3 separate regions of the Homo sapiens genome follow, and regions 1 and 2 are each linked to region 3. Evidence: fine-mapped expression QTL. A gene starts in region 3. Each other region holds a variant in brackets. All regions are shown on one strand. Distances are between the middles of the regions.

What was found. PIP is the estimated chance that this variant, and not a neighbour inherited with it, causes the effect. A credible set is the group of variants that fine-mapping cannot tell apart.
Region 1: its variant is the best candidate, but not a certain one, in a credible set for the expression of COL4A3 in pancreas (GTEx, PIP 0.69).
Region 2: its variant is the best candidate, but not a certain one, in a credible set for the expression of COL4A3 in pituitary (GTEx, PIP 0.78).

The regions. Positions count from the first base shown.
Region 1 is chr2:227,198,823-227,204,630 of GRCh38, forward strand. All of the region lies in intron 1 of COL4A3 (collagen type IV alpha 3 chain), which reads left to right. Among named protein-coding and RNA genes, the nearest start is that of COL4A3, 37 kb to the left of the region's middle. The variant T/A (reference allele first, on the strand shown) is at 3,548.
Region 2 is chr2:227,205,100-227,210,907 of GRCh38, forward strand. The region is part of intron 1 of COL4A3 (collagen type IV alpha 3 chain); the gene reads left to right. Among named protein-coding and RNA genes, the nearest start is that of COL4A3, 43 kb to the left of the region's middle. The variant C/T (reference allele first, on the strand shown) is at 2,277.
Region 3 is chr2:227,161,421-227,167,228 of GRCh38, forward strand. COL4A3 (collagen type IV alpha 3 chain) reads left to right here and starts at 3,204. Exons shown (of 52, transcript NM_000091.5): 1 at 3,204-3,393. The coding sequence starts at 3,307. COL4A4 (collagen type IV alpha 4 chain) reads right to left here and starts at 2,785. Exons shown (of 48, transcript NM_000092.5): 1 at 2,587-2,785. RefSeq lists enhancers at 2,112-3,013, 2,288-2,387 and silencers at 2,658-3,037, 3,258-3,437.

The sequences.
Region 1 (5,808 bases), 37 kb after region 3:
ACCATTAAAAATCATTTTGATTTTGTATTGAAGGCAATGGGGAAGCAGTATAGGGTTTTTAGCAGGGAATCAACAGAGATTTGTACTTAAGAAGATCCTTTTAGAGGCAGGATGAAGTGAAGGATGGCTGGAAAGGGAGGTGAATGAATTAGAAATGGCAGCAACTGAGATGGCCCTGCGGAGTCACAGGAATTAGGGCAAGGGACGTGGGACTTATTTTCCAGTGCAGAGTAACAGCTGTTCTCACTCCTAAGGACAGATTAGGAGCAAACTGAATTGAGGAATGAAAAAATTCAGGTTAGGCTCAGAGGAACATATTACCAGTAAGTCAAGGTTGGTAAGCATGGCAAGGGGCCTTTGAGTGAGATGTTTATCACAAGAAAAATTCCACTTTCTTCCGGAGGATTTACCTGTGTAATTGCAACCTCAGTAGTTTTATAGCAGAGTTAGTCATGAATTTCCTTGTCTATTTCACCCCCATTCCTCCCCCAGGATTGGGTCATTTCTATCTCTGATACTACTTGGCAATCTTTACCTCTGAAAATTCTTGCCCCTGGCATACTATCATCCTAGAAAATAAGTATTTTAGAGATTTAAATATAACCAGGTAATCAATGCCCTGTTGTAGTTCACTTCGGCTCATTCAGTCTGCAACTAAGACTGGATCAAACAGACCTAAGGGATTTGTCTCTAATCTGAAGCATTCCAAAGAGATTGATTTGAAATTTTCCTAAAGTCCCTGAAAGTCTTCAGCTTGAGAAATGACCCAAGGTCAGGATTAATCCCTTACTTTAGTGTTTCTGCATTGTCGTCCATAACCCACAGGCATCGGAATCACCTAAGATCTTAAATATTGAGATTCTTGGGCCCAGCCCAGACTAAACATTCATATCTGTGGCCCCAGCCCCAATTCAGTGAATCAGAATGAAGACAGGTTGTTGGGAGAAGGGCAAGTTCAGAAGGGTTTGTGCTTTTAACATGCATAGTTCTTGTGCATATAAAAATGTAAAAACAAACAAACAAACAAAAAACTAGTCCGAAGGATGGATCGTGCCTCCCAATGTTAATAGGAAGGCTGCAGCAAGAGCTTATCTTTATATATGTTAACTCATAAATTATATTGCATGTTTACTCACAGTCTAGAAGGTACCACATTCTGTAGACATGTATGGTTTGACCTAATCACAGAAAGCTAGAAGTAGGAAAAAACATAGAGATAGCTTTGTCCAATCTAAGAAAACTGAAGACCAGAAAGACTGAAGCTTTTCCCAGGTGCACAGCTGAATGCTAGCAGAGCCTGACTGTCACCCCACCATCTTATGATATTTCTTTTTGTGATCTCGATGTAGATGGAAAAGAACAGGAACGAAGTTTGTATCTTTACATAGTGTGTATGTGTAGATACAATTCGAAGAAGGGACTTTTTTCCTTTAATCTACACTGATTTTCCATTAGAACATTCTTGAACATCCACTGTATTCACAAAGTTTTTCCTGGGTGCCAGCAACCCAAAGCACCACACTCTTCCCCATCATCCCACGTCATGCTGGTTCTACACAGAGTTTCAACTCTTGATTGTTCAATTATTGGCTCTCATCTCACTTCTGTTCTGCATAAGGCCAGCCCACACAAATTTTCCATTGTCCCAAGTACAGCCATAGCACATAGTCGATGCCTAAAGAATGCATATAGATGTAATAGTTGCCCTATTTTAGAAAACAAGGAAGGCGCTGGTGCATGTTTCTAGTGTGCATTGGAGGCAGGACTCAAAAATCTGCTCAGACTCACAAAGCCATTCATAGCTGACTCTTCAGCAGTACAAGCAGGGCTAAAATGTTTTGGGTCTCAATTGCAAATTCTAGAAACTTATGCACAGACTCCAAAAGCAAGCATCTTAGTTCTCTGTGATTTGTACTTGTAAACTTGTTTCTGTCATAAGTAACATGATGTTAATTTACATTAAAGTTTATGGCTTCATTTACATGTTCAATTGCATGTACAATTACAATTGAACAATTACATGTTCAATTACAATGAAATGTTCAATTACAAATGTCAGATCTCCTCAACTCTCTGCTTATGTTTTGTTTGGTTTTGCTTTGCATTTATTCCAAAATGTTATTATGAAAATGTTTAAACATTCAAGAACATGGGAAGAAGTGTTCTTCTTAAATTAAGTTTAGATTAGAAATTATATTATTCACATTTAATTTTAATGTAATAATGACATGCCTTAAGTATCTTTAAAAAGTTTTGTGTTAACAAATACATTTATTCTTATTAGGTTATGTTACCTTAATGACTCTCTTTTTACAGCTAATCAGCTCAAGAAGAAAGAATCAAGATAGTAAAAGCTGGACAGTATTTACTTAGCATCTGTGTAAAAAGCAAGAGGAGATTTTCTGTGAGAAAAACGGTCTTATTTACAAGTTCATGAATAGTTTTGAAACTTTTCCACTAAGGAGGAAAAAAAAATTCCTCTGTTGTTAAAATGTTAACAGTAGTTTAATAGGAGTTGACATAGTTAGGTGGAATCAAAAAGCAAAATGCAAAAGCCCAACACATGTTGGGTAGAAAAGGCAAATTTGTCACATCCCAGGCTTACATTGTATTTGCCACTGTCGTCTCAGTCAAAGGTTTTTGTTAAGGTCTGAAGACGCAGAAAGAAGAATAGTAGCACTGTATCCGTTTCCAGTTGACGTTAGAAGAATAGTAGCAATGTATCCGTTTCCAGTTGACCTTATTTCAATAGACTGTGAAATCCAAGGTGTGGGGTCGTGTGTTTAGAGAAACAAGTAGTTCATTCTAAAAACTGAGAAATACCTGATGTCACTATAGACACCAATCAGAAACTACCAAATCCTTTTCAACTGTAAAACAGAAAGGATTCTGAATGGAACGAGAGATTTAAAACCATCTATGGGACTCAAGCATTGCAACTGTATGTGTTTCTCCTATTGAAATTAATTACTCTTGTCTATTGGAAATGGATAGCCAGATTAATTTTTTTCTAAGCACCTCCTGATCCCAAATGAAGCACTGGTCTAGTTTGCCATTACTTGTTTTGATGTATTTTTCAAACACCATGGAATGATGTATTATTAACTAAAGTATTAAATGGAAACTATAGCACACTTTAAATACCAACCTTTAACCATTAACCTGAATGCTGGTAAAAGGACTTCAAATGATTTTCCAGTACACTAAGCCCTGTTTAGCAGTTTGATTTCACGATTGGTTAGCAACACAAAAATCCAGGTGCAGAATTCCCTTCCAGAATATATTCTTGCTATTTTATACTATTAAGTACGGGTTCATTAGAACTTGATGTTTTGAATGTGTTGTAACATTGTAGGGTGTCAATATTAGAGCACACCAGTTCTAGCTTGCCTGTGGTATGCAATTCACCTGTATTCGGAGAGCTATGTAATTTACACTTGTCTGTATTTTCCTTGTGGCTGTCCCCATGCCTTTTTTCATGTTTCATTGTTCTTCCTAACAAATGTTACCATTTCCAACTATAGGTGTTTCTTGAAGCCCTAAATAA[T/A]CATGCCTGTCTTATTTTAGTATCCAAAGTTTACTAACTGGAGTGAACTGATAATGCTGGTATGCGGGTATTTTTTTAAAATATATTAATACTAGCCGGGCGCGGTGGCTCTCTCCTGTAATCCCAGCACTTTGGGAGGCCGAGGCGGGCGGATCACTAGGTCAGGAGATCGAGACCATCTTGGCTAACACGGTGAAACCCCGTCTCTACAAAAAATTAGCCGGGCGCGGTGGCGGGCACCTGTAGTCCCAGCTACTCGGGAGGCTGAGGCAGGAGAATGGTGTGAACCCGGGAGGCAGAGCTTGCAGTGAGCCGAGATAGCGCCACTGCAGTCCGGCCTGGGAGAAAGTGCGAGAATCCGTCTCTAAAAAAAAAAAATATATATATATATATATATATATATCACATATATATACACATGTGTATATATATAATATGTGTATATATACATATATGTGTATCTATGTGTATATATACATATGTGTATATATACATATATGTGTATATATACATATGTGTATATATGTGTATATATGTGTATATATACATATATGTGTATATATGTGTATATATGTGTATATATACATATATGTGTATATATGTGTATATATACATATGTGTATATATGTGTATATATACATATATGTGTATATATGTGTATATATACATATATGTGTATATATGTGTATATATACATATATGTGTATATATGTGTATATATGTGTATATATACATATATGTGTATATATGTGTATATATACATATATGTGTATATATGTGTATATATACATATATGTGTATATATGTGTATATGTGTGTATATATACATATATGTGTATATACACACATATATGTGTATATATGTGTATATATACATATATGTATATATACATATATGTGTATATATGTGTATATATACATATATGTGTATATATGTGTATATATACATATATGTGTATACATACATATATGTGTATATATGTGTATATATACATATATGTGTATACATACATATATGTGTATATATGTGTATACATACATATATGTGTATACATACATATATGTGTGTATATGTGTATACATACATATATGTGTGTATATATGTGTATACATATGTGTGTATATGTGTATATATACATATATGTGTGTATATATGTGTATATATACATATATGTGTGTATATATGTGTATATATACATATATGTGTGTATATATGTGTATATATACATATATGTGTGTATATATGTGTATATATACATATATGTGTGTATATATGTGTATATATACATATATGTGTGTATATATGTGTATATATACATATATGTGTGTATATATGTGTATATATACATATATGTGTGTATATATGTGTATATATACATATATGTGTGTATATATGTGTATATATACATATATGTGTGTATATATATACACTACAGTAGCAAAGTCATTTATTATCTCCTAGTTTTATTTTCAGCAATAATATTCCAAAAATATTTGCCACATATCAAGCCCATTCCCCTAAAATATAAGCCTCTTAAGCATGAGAATTTTGTCTAATGTCAATTGCTGGATTCCCAGCTCCCAGACCAGTACCAGGGCTTAATAAATATTCATTGACTAACATTCAGCCTAGATAGAACCTGAGGATGCAGAAGTGGAAAAAATGGTAAGAACCTTTATAGTATGGTGCTGACATTAAATGAACAGCACTAATATTAAGTGGCATCTTAATAATTCGTAGTAGACCTAAATTACCTGGATTCAACTCCAAGAATCCAAGATCCACCATTTACTAGCCGGGTGACTTTAAGAAAATTACCTAGTCTTTCTGTGCCTCAATTTTCTCATTTGTAATATGCAATAAGGATTAAATAAGTTATTAGAAATAATGTACTTAGAACAATGTCTGTCACATGAGCATTCAATAAATCTAAGCTGCTACTTTTAGCTGCCACCTGGTACTGCTTCTATTGCTCTTTTCTTCATTTCCTTCTATTTTTTTCTCTTTCTCTATCTTATGTTCTCACTATTTTTTCTTCTCTTTTTAGGCTTCACACTTATCCTTTACTATAGTTCTGCCAGTGACTCTCACAAACATTGCTTAAACTTTCTGATGATGCTCAGGGTTAGACTCCACCATATACGAAGGGACCCGTGCAAATGATGGCTGAAGCAGGACAGATTGTCTGGGATTCTAAAGACAGGCTAACAGAATTCCTTGTTGGCATTTTCCTTCTGAATGCCTCTGTCTTAGCTTAATC
Region 2 (5,808 bases), 44 kb after region 3:
AAAATTAGCATACTTCTATATGCAATCTTGAAATCCCAAGAGCTGATATATTCTTTTATTTCATAGTTTAAAATAATCTTATCTGTATATTAAAAATAGAGACTACAAAAAATGTTATGAGGTTATGTGAGGTTATGCATATGTTATTCAGCTCATTTTGGCTACCCTATTATGTACACATATTTCAAAATATTAGGTTGTATATGAAATAGTGTATATACGATATTCTATCAAATAAAATAAATTAACTTTTGATAAAGATCAATAATAATATATTGTTCCAGATTGCCAATCTCTGCAAGGTACAAACATTGTGATATGTTTATAACATAGGAGAATTTGCTTTCAATGCATTGAGACATACAATGCTTCTATAGTATCTCATAGTTATAGAATGAATATTTTATATTAGAAATTATTTTTATAATTGTACATGATCCCAGACATGTAAGCATTTTCTTGATAATATTTATAGCTAAAATTATTATTGATTAAATTAAAATAACATGGAAACAAGTAAATAACTTCAAAAATATTTATCAATAATAGTATTACATTCCTTCCCACAATGCTTAAAACCCATATGACTATACAACTTAATTCAACAAATATTTTTTTTTTTGAAATCGACTAAGTTCAAAATACTCTCTTAAACATTTCCTGAGCTTTAAATATTATTAAGACAGTCTCCACTTTCAAGGAACTTCTGGTTTCTTAGGTATAAAAAGACAAGGGCCCATGCCACTAAATAAAGCAGCATGATGCCAAATGTCGTAAGAGCAGTGTCTTGGCAAGTTGATGCATTGTATCTGGGGAGATCAAGAGCAGCTTAGCTGAGGCTTTAGGGCAATGGTTCTCACCCTGGACTCTACAAGGAAAATCATCTGGGAAACTTGCAAAAATACTGATGACTGGGGTTTTGATTCAACACGTCTGGGGTGTAGCCTGGGCATTAGGGTTTTTAAGAGTTCCCCCAGGTGATTTTTTTTTTCGAGATGGAGTCTCACTCTGTTGCCCAGGCTGAAGTGCAGTGGTGCGATCTCAGCTCACTGCAGCCTCCACCAAGCAGGTTCAAGCAACTCTCCTCCCTCAGCCTGCCAAGTAGCTGGGATTACAGGCACCCGCCACCACACCCGGCTAATTTTTGTATTCTTAGTAGAGACAGGGTTTCACCATGTTGGCCAGGCTGGTCTCAACTCCTGACCTCAAGTGATCCACCTGCCTTGGTCTCCCGTAGTGCTGGGATTACAGGCCTGAGCCACTGTGCCCCGCCCCCTCAGGTGATTCTAATGTGCAAGGAGGTTCTCGGAAAAATTGAAAAATCATCTTAGACTTTGGTTCTGAAGATCGAATGAGATTTTGATAGGCTCAGGTGGGAACTGAGGAGAGGGAAGGAAGGACAGCAGGAAGAGAGCCAGCTGAGCAGCAAAAAGTGAGTTAGTGTGGGAACACTGAAGAGTAGGAGGAAATGGCTGGATCCTTCCAAATGCGGCCCGTGACCTCATACCAAGAGGTATGTAACACCTGAGAACTTGTCAGAAATGCAGACTCTCAAGCCCTGCCCCAGACCTAATGAGTCCGAATCTGTGTCTTAAAAAGACTCACAGGTGATTTGTATGCACGTGGAGGTTGGAGAAGCTTGGGCTTGATCACAGGGTAGCAATAACGACGAAAATCACTGACACACACTCGTATGCAGGTTTACATGTCTTAGCTAAGCCTCATACCAACCCATAAGGAAGTATTCTTTATCATCACCCCATTTTCTAGATGAAGAAATTGAAACTCAGGTTTGTTTGCTCATCTAGAAAGTAATGGAACAGAGATTCAAACCCAGACCCCTAACTGCTACAAAGCACTTGCACTGCATACTTGCACTGTGTCACCACTTTTGTGGTTAAGAGGAAGCCCAGGAGACACCCTGGAATGGAAGAGGAGGGCTCTGATATGTACTCCAGAGGAAATCCTGAGTCCTGGGCTAGGAAGAGCAGGTCTGTGAATGAGGGGGCCCTGTCCTACCCTCCAAGCCAGAGCCCAGAAAAGGCAACCCTATCCCTTTCCACTCGTCATCTCTTGCCTTTCATTCCAGGTTTCTAAACTAAGAGAACTTATCTGTGCCTTAGAAAAAGAGTTCTAGGAAAACAACCAAGAAAGTTAGTAACCCCACAGAAATGGAATACCTAGTCACCAAATTAAAAATAAAACACACACTAAAAAAATGCATTTTAGTATAACATAAAAATAAATATATCTTCCAAATATTTATTTCTTCTTCA[C/T]TTCTTGTTTATTTCCCTACATTCTCCCTCCTCTCTCTCGTAGCCGAAACACAGGTTCAGTGGCCCACTGCTTGCAGAGTCCAGTTAACAAGAGTGTGGTTTGGTATAATTAAAGTGACTTTTTATTCTAAACCTAGCTTACGGGAAGGAGTACAGTACAGGCTTCCCACCTTAAGGATACTGCTTCACTTTTGGAGCAGAAAGCAGGTGCTTTAAAGGGCAGGGGGGTTTGCAGGGGCAGAAGTGACTAGTTAGGGGTTCACATACGCACTTTGGTGCCTTATCTACCGGGCATTGGAGCTGGTGTCTTCATGGGCAGAAATAGGTTGTAAATGTGGCCAAAAGCTCTCCAGGTGAGACAGAGTTTCACAGCAGGCATACTTTGGATTGTAAATTGAGTGTTATCTCTCAAAGCAGTCCCCTGGTGGGGGAGAGTTCTGCTCTGGAGCTTCTAAGCCCATAGTTGGATAAACTTGCCCTGTAGGGAGTGTCTGGTGAAGGGGAGGTAAAAGGTTATAATTGAAGGGGCTAAGTAGGAAGTGGGGAATAGGGAGAAATGGAGAAAAGAGAAGAAAAATAATTAAAAAATAGTAATGCATTCTCCTCTTAGAAAAATTGGAGTATTGGTTACTCTCTCCCCCCGCCCCCCCACACACACGAAACCACCTTTGCAAAATTATAACTGAGGAAATTATGACAGTGAAATAAATCTAACTTAACCAACTCTATTTTGCTTCTAACCCTTAAGCTGTCCTTGTTCATTCCTGGGCATAGGCCGAACTGACTTTGGGAAGGAATTCAGTTCATGGTTTGACTCTGAAACAAAATTGATAACAGCCCTTTCCCAAAAAGACCCCCTTCTTGCCTGGGGACCAGTTTGCCTTTGCAGGACTAACAAATTAGCTACAAGATGAGAAATTACAGTTTCAGGGTCATGCGGCTTCTGGCTTCAAGAGTCCGAACCTCCCCAAATTGCTCCTGGGGGTAACATCATTATTGTAAAACCTAAGATCAGTGCTTGAGACATTTTGTAGACCCTGCACTCAATGGATCAGCTAACCCCACCCAGACCTGTAATCTGGTCCAACCCAGTTGTACCAATGCACTCAGGAACAGAAGACATTAAGAAAACCTAACTCCGACCCATGAAGATTCCATCTCCAACCTGACCAGTCAGCTCTCCCCACTTCCCAAGCCCCTACCCGCCAAACTATCTTTAAAAACTCTGATCCCCAAATGTTCGGGGAGACTGAGTTGAGTAATGATGAATATTCCGTCTCCTGCACAGCCGGCTCTGCGTGAATTACTCTTTCTCCATTGCAGTTCCCCTGTCTTGATAAATCAGTTCTGTCTAGGCAGCAAGAAAGGTGAACCCATTAGGCGGTTGGTTACACACACACACACACACACACACACACACACACACACACATATATACAGAAGGAGGTAAGTACAAAGTTCTAGAAAGAGGAGCAAAAAACAAAGAAAGAGGAGGGAGAGAAACAAAATTATGCTGTGTGCAAATATTTCAAATATGTTAAAATTTTCCTAAAGTTTTCATGGAATTTTTATCTTAAATGGCAAGAGAAAGAAGGAAGAAAGAACAGGAAGAGAATACAAGTTGAGGAATTCCCAAGGGAAAGCAGAAGGAAAGGGAAGCATTACAAACAAACTTTTGGAACCTCATTTTTTGCCTAAGCCAGATGTTTCTGAACGACACAAAACATGACTTGAGAAAAAGTGGCTCTGCCAACCATGGTCATACATCACCAGCACAATGTTAATTCCTGTTCCAAACAGGGGTACTTGAAAGGTCATCCCAGGATAATCTTGGGGATTCCCTAAGAGTATGTGGCCTATGTTGCGTCCAGCTGGTTCTAGATGGTCCAATTCAGATGCATCTGCTTTTCCAGTGGACCATCTAGAACATCCCTTCTTGCTCCCTTCACTCCAGCCAGACTGGCCCAGTGGCCTTAGGTCCTCAGCAGGCCTGAACCTTTTACTTCTGGACTTTGCTTGTCATCCTCCCTGCCTGGTATATCTTCCCCAACGGATTCCTTGTTTTGAATCCTGCTATCTCTGTTAACGCAGTACTAGCCCCATCTCTTCTGTGAAGCCTCTGTGTCCGAATCTTCTGGGAACTCCACCTCCTCTGTGTTAGAACATTAAAAGATGGGACCTAGGCTGGGCACAGTGACTCACACCTGTAATCCCAGCACTTTGGGAGGCTGAGGTGGGTAGATCACCTGAAATCAGGAGTTCGAGACCAGCCTGGCCAATATGGTGAAACCCCATCTCTACTAAAAATACAAAAAAATTAGCTGGGTGTGGTGGTAGGTGCCTGTAATTCCAGCTACTCTGGAGGTTGATGCAGGAGAATCACTTGAACCTGGGAGGCGGAGGTTGCAGTGAGCTGAGATCGTGCCATTGCGCTCCAGCCTGGGCAATAAGAGCAAAACTCCATCTCAAAAACAAACAAACAAACAAACAAAAAAGATGGGACCTTTACTCTGTCCTGTTCAGTTTCTTTTTATATGGATATGTTCTGACCAACTCTCAAATGCCTGATGGAATGAACTGGGTAATTGGGATGTTAGGCAAGTTGCTTAGCTTTCTTGTCTGTAAATTGGGAATAATAATACAACACACTTATAAGATTGTAAAGATCTAATGAGTTCCTGTAAGTAAAGTTCTTAATACAGTGCCAGGCATGTAGTAAAAGCTATCTGTGTTATTTATGAGTTTACCTTTGGGACATTGTTGAACCAAACCTTAACTGATGTTAAATATTGTTGCAGAAACAGGACAGAGGCTCCAAAGCATCTTTGTAGGTGCCTTTAACAAGCATTGCAAAGCTATCCTACATTATAAAGTACAATCATCCATGAAATGATGTACATATTATATATGCACAGTGTAAAGAATACAAAATAGGCTGGGCATGGTGGCTCATACCTGTAATCCCAGCACTTTGGGATGCCAACGCAGGCAGATCACCTGAGGTCAGAAGTTCAAGACCAGCCTGGCCAACATGGTGAAACCCCATCTCTACTAAAAATAAAAAATTAGCCAAGTGTGGTGGCACGCACCTGTAGTCCCAGCTACTCAGGAGGCTGAGACAGGAGAATTGTTTGAACCTGGGAGGCGGAGGTTGCAGAGAGCCGAGACCGAACCACTGCACACCAGCCTGGGTGACAGAGTGAGACTCCATCTCAAAAAGAAAAAAAGAATGCAAAATAAACACCCAAGTACACATGTACACAGCACGCATGCAAGCATGCACGCAGGTGCACACATATGCGTTAAGATAAAGAACATAAGCAGTATAACTCCAGTGTAATCTACCACAACTGCATTCCCTTCTCACAGCCACCCCACCACCAAATGCAATTCAGACTTTTATGTTACCTATTTTCTTATTTTTCTTTGCCGTGTCTCCCCATAAATACTTATTCCCAAACAAACAAAAATATATATACATATATTAGTTTCACCTGTTTGGGGGGAACTCTATATAAATGGAATCATACTG
Region 3 (5,808 bases):
CGAAAAGAACCATCCTCCTTTCCTCTTGCTGTTTTACATTTAAAGAACCAACTGTGAAAAATCAACTCTCTTGACCCAAAGACAATTTTTTTAACAATCAAGCCTTCCAGTTAATTAACACCACCTGTTTGTTTGACAGGTGAGCCTGTCAAACATTGTTCTAAATGTGGCAGGTGGGGAATAGGTGGTTAAATGTGGCTTTTAGATAAGCAACTTCTCAGAGTTTTAAGTACCAGGTGCATACGAATCACCTGGAGATCTTGGTGAATGTGGGATCTGATTCAGTGGATCCAGAGTGAGACCAGAGACTCTACATTTCCAGCAAGCTCCCAGGGAGGCCAATGCTGCTGGTCCCAAGGGATGCCAAGGCAAGGTTCTAGAGGCCTTGGAAGTGTATTAACCTCAAGGGAGTTCATAGGCTATGCTTGCCTCCAGCCATTTTAGTACTGAGCTCAGAAGAGCATCTCTACCACGTGCCACCATTTCTCATCAGGGCCACCTATTTTCCTTTGTACAAAAAAAAAAAAAGAATCAAATTTCACTATGTGACTACTGTGTGAAGATTCTGCACAAAGGGTTTTTGCTATCTCATTAGATTCCAACAACTCCCTGAGGTGGGTATGGTGAGTATGTCTATTTTATAGAAGGAAGACTCCAGCCCAGAGAGGTTAGGTCACACTAGTAAGTATGGAAAGGATTCAAAACTCCAGAGTCTACTCCAGAGGTCAAGCTCTCCAGCATTGCCTCTTTCTTGCTGTATTTACATCACAAGTTTCTTTCCAGCTCTGTATCTGCAACAGAAATGACTTGCAGTTGACTATTACTTCCTGTTCCAAAATTGATAAAACCAAGTCTAGTCCTCCAACAAAATGACTTGGTTTCAGGAAAAGGCAATTAAAATTCAAATTGAGGAATCTTCTGGAATTTGGCAAAGAGAAGCATTTAACATTAGCATTGAGATTTTTTTGTTTGTACTTTTTAAAATTAAATACTGTCAGTTTGTGAAACATAATCATGTGACTCTCAGAACTCTTGGACACTGTCACCTCATCAACAGAACACCTACCGTTTCATTCCACAAGAGTGGCAGAAGTTTCCAGAAGAACCTTCCCTACCAATGGAAAGAAGCTACTGCATACCACACAGCAACATCTGCGATATGGTCATAAATTCCGCAGTGTTCCCAAGTTGTAATGAAGAGTTTAATATATGTGCTTTTTATTATTCTACTAAGAATATATCCTAATTCAACATGTGCGTGAAATTTTCACATGTTCGTGAAAACAGGAGCTCTCATACTTGATTGTGCATGGGAATGTACAGGAAATTTTAAAACAGCTAGAGAGTCTGATAAAATTGGCTTGGAATGGTCTGGGTAGCAACATTGTTTTATCCTCCCAAAGATTCTAATGCACAACGATAGTTGAGAATCACTGGCATAAAAGACAGAAAGAAGACTGTAAGATTCATGCTATAGTCAAAATAAAAAGAATGGGAGGAGTGTCTTCATTCACTGTTAGGGTTTTGCCTACCTGCATGGCTACAAAGTTCTAAGATACCAATAGATCCCAAATTTAACTGCAAGCAAGTGGTTCCCTAAAATCAGTGACCAACTGCATGATCATACTTGGTGTCTGAAGCCAATTGCAGCAAATATCAGCAACACTGTTCCAAAGCAAAGATTCTTAACCTGAGGATGGAATTCAGGTGATCTGTATAGGAAACTCACATAGGAAAATAAGTTGCATCTTTACTTTTAGTAACATGTCACAGAAGTTCAACATGTCCTTCCCTTATGAGCACAGGCAACAGAGCACAGTAGTATTGGCAGTTCTTGATAATTTGCACCCACCGGTATTTTCATGTCACATTTCAGTTTGGGCTATTATCTCAAAATACCATTTGCAGACATCACTACTTTGACATTACTGTTGCTTAATCGGCCTGCTGTTAAATCAAGCTATTTAATGCAATAATGATGATGCACCTGTGTTAGTTACTATATCACGACTTGAGGACTTCCATAATTGCATTCCAATAAAACTGATTCTGATTTAATTGTATTTTATGCATTTCACAACATTCTTCTGAGAAACAGTCTAATTGCTTTACCAGAGCCAGTGTGGTCCGTAGCACAGGAAACGGCGAGAGCCGGCTGGAGGACCGTGCCCTGGCACATTTGCATCGCAGGCCACCCCCAGGAAGAGCGCACCCTGACCAGAGCTGAGTCTTGTTTTGCCCTGCATTTCCGCAGATAAGATTTGGCCTGAAAAGCAGTTCAACTCAGCGGAGAATAAGATGGGCTTTCTCTTTCTCCTCAGCTGCCTCTTTCTCTTGGCATTTTGGAGTGCCCCGACTGCCAGGCCGGTAACTCGAGCCTCCAAATTAATCAAAACACACAGCACCCAGTTAAAGCCCAGGCAGACAAGCCCAGGAGCCAGACGCGCTCTCCTCTGGTGACCCCCGGGCCACAACTCCCCAGCTGGGCCCGCCACCACCCCTTGAATGCCACGCTCCCTCCACTGCCCCTCCCAGGCAGGTGCCGGGGCCCCGGGACAGCGGTTGCCCCACCTATGGGCGCCTTACCTGTGGGGACGCCCGCAGCGCCAGGAGCTGCCGCCTTGCCACCCCACGGGACGCGCACCTCCAGCCCCAATCCACCCGCGCCCCGCTGCCTCTTCGCGGCGCTCTCGCAGCCAAGCCCGGCGGCCGCAAGTTGGAGGCGGGCTGGAGGCGGGGAACGCGGACCGCCGCGGGCGCGGGGAACAAGCGGGGCCTCCCGAGTGCAGACGCCCGGCGCGCCTCCCGCTTAATCTGGGCAGGGCCGCTGGCCACTCCCTCCACCCTGCGCAGCCACCTCCCCACCGCGCAGCCACCTCCCCACCGCACACCCCCAAACGCCCCACCTCCGACCGCACCCCACTTCCCCGCCTGGGCCCCCGGACCTTGGGAGCATCACCTCCTTAACCCCTTACCCTGGATCCGCGCCCACCTGCCCCTCAGGCGCCCAGCCCTTTCTCGCCTCCTGGGCACGATGCCCGGGTAGAAGGGACACTGCCTGGTAAGTTGGGAGGGAGGGGGTATGAGGGCGGGACCTGAGCCACGTCTTCCCTCCCTTGAAGCCACAACCAAAAAGCCTGGGTGGGGAGGGACGAACCGCGCGACCGAGCCCTACAAAACCCGCCCCGGCCGAGTGGCGAGGCGAGCTTTCCAGCCGGGCTCCCAGAGCCGCGCTGCGCAGGAGACGCGGTGGCCTGAGAGCCTGAGGGTCCCCGGACTCGCCCAGGCTCTGAGCGCGCGCCCACCATGAGCGCCCGGACCGCCCCCAGGCCGCAGGTGCTCCTGCTGCCGCTCCTGCTGGTGCTCCTGGCGGCGGCGCCCGCAGCCAGCAAGGTGAGTGGGGGCTGCGCGACCCCCACCCCCGCACTTCCATCCCTCCTCCACGCGTCCGGGGGACGCGCTGGCCCCACCCGCAGCGGCGCGGTAGTGGAGCGGCTGCCGGGCTAGTGGCGAGGCTGAGGGCTTCACGCAGGTCCCGGGACAGGCAGCGAGCGGAAGGGAGCAAGCGGGGATGCCCCGGAACAGGTGGAATGCGCGGGGCTGGGGGAAGAGGCGAGGAGGGGGCTTGTCCAGTGCCTAGGAGTCAGGGATGGCGGGGACAGGCCTCCAGAGGTCAGTAAATTAAAAAATAGACACATAGATAATCGCCAGGGATGATACGTGAGAACACCGGATGTGGAGATGCACGGTGTCACGCTGGTGAATCAAATCAAGCAGCTTGGCCCAGCGCACAGAGGGCTGGCAGGAGACACCTGCAGGGAGTCCCAGCCGCCACTTCCTAGCTGGGACGTCACACTAAACCCTGACCTCTCTGGGGCTCAGTTTCTTCCTTGCAAAACTTGCCCTCCAGTTTTCCTTTGCTATTGTTGGGAAAAGCAAATGCTATCACTGAAAAATTAAGAGCACCTTAGAAATCGAACTCAGGTTAGAATCATTTAAGCAATCTGACACTTTGATTTGATTTTTGACTTGGAATTTGAGTGAAACTGGATTTATTTAAATCCATCCCATATTTCTTATTCTTTGCCATTAAATAGAAATTGATTGTCCTCAAAACGATTGTGCCTCCTAGAGTTGACTCACTTGATTTTACCTTGTGAAAGTAAACTTTAACTTTTCAGATACTTGTTATTTTTACACTTTAAAAAGTTGATTTGGGTGATAACGTGGCATAGGAAATTTCATTTCCAAGGATGAGCAGATGTTTTTACAAATGTTATCATTGAGATTATGATTGGAAATTAACGGTCACATAAATATTTATATATGTTACATGAAAAGAATTTTAGAACCTATGGTCACATATAGGTTCTATATGTTTTTCCTATTTAAATTAAATGAAGACATTGCAGACATTATAGGTGAAACTAAAGCCCTCTCTGACACCCCCCATACCTCTCCCCATTTCCTTGTCTTCCAAGAGGTGTCCACTTTCACCACTTTCATATTTCATGTAGTTTTCCAAACATTGTCCATGAATTTACACACACACATATGAACCCACAAACATATATGTATGTTTTTGTTGGCCTTTTAACATAAATGATACTGTGCTGTATTCCTTTGCAACCTGTAGACCAGTCCATGTCAGTATTTAAGATCCTCCTGTTTTTCTTTTTGCTTTGTTGCACAGTATTTCACAATATGCCAAAGTTAATTGAACCATTTCCCTATCAGTTTACATTTAGATTATTCACTGTTTCACATTCTAAAGGACATTTGTAATCTATGTAATCTGTTTGTGTAGCTGGTTCTAACAAAAATGCACTTTGCATACATTAGGAATTCCCAGACCAGGTATTTAAATGCTACTAGGCATGATAGATAAAACTCAGTGGGGATTATCTACCAGCTTTAACCAGGACAAATAAATCCAAAAAAGCAAAATCCTAAAGGAAATGTGTGTTGTGGGGAAGCCTGGAGAAGAGATCCAGAGCAGGGTTTGCACATGTTTCTGAATTTAGAAGAACAGGAATGAGATTGGGAAGGGGTGGAAGAATTGTACTTATGTGAGGATCAGCCTGAAAAAGTAATGCTTGGGGACCATGCAAACTCTAGTTATACCATTTTCAATTCTGTTGTTACATTCCTTTGTTATTTTTACATGTAAACTTTTCTGTTTTGAGTTTGGCCAAATCTTGGTGACTTCTTGCTGAAATTAATCCATTTGTATTGTTTTTCTCATCACTTGAAGTAAGTCTTTCATTAACAAGTTTTCAGGATTATCATTTCCAGTGTACCTGCTGGGTTAGAGAGAAAATATGCCAGTAAAATAATGAAATGTGCCTTCATCTTGTAGAAAAAGGAATCACAACGTTCACTGATAATCGGGCAATGTGCACCAACATGGCTCCCTTCACAGAGAAACTCTGCTGTTGGGCAAGGCTGTTGACCACTCTGAGCCTCAGTTTTCTCATGTGTAAAATGAGAGTTGAAACCCCAGTGGGGCCAGCAGGTGAAGTAAGGAGTAAGGCAATGGGGTAAGAGAGACTCTTCAGAACCTAGTTGTTAGCATGCTAGAATTCAAGCCCAATTGTGCCAGCATCACTTCAAGAGAGAAGTTGGGAATCCAGTTTTTATTAGAAACTTCTCAAATTCTAAATATTAGCAACTAAGCCAAAACTTTACAAAAACATAGTGTGGGCCAAACAATGTATAAGTGAGAGCTAAATGTAACTTTGGAGCCATTATATTTTATTATTTTTGTTCTACTCCAGTTAAGGATGTGTTTCGCTCCAATTTATTCAG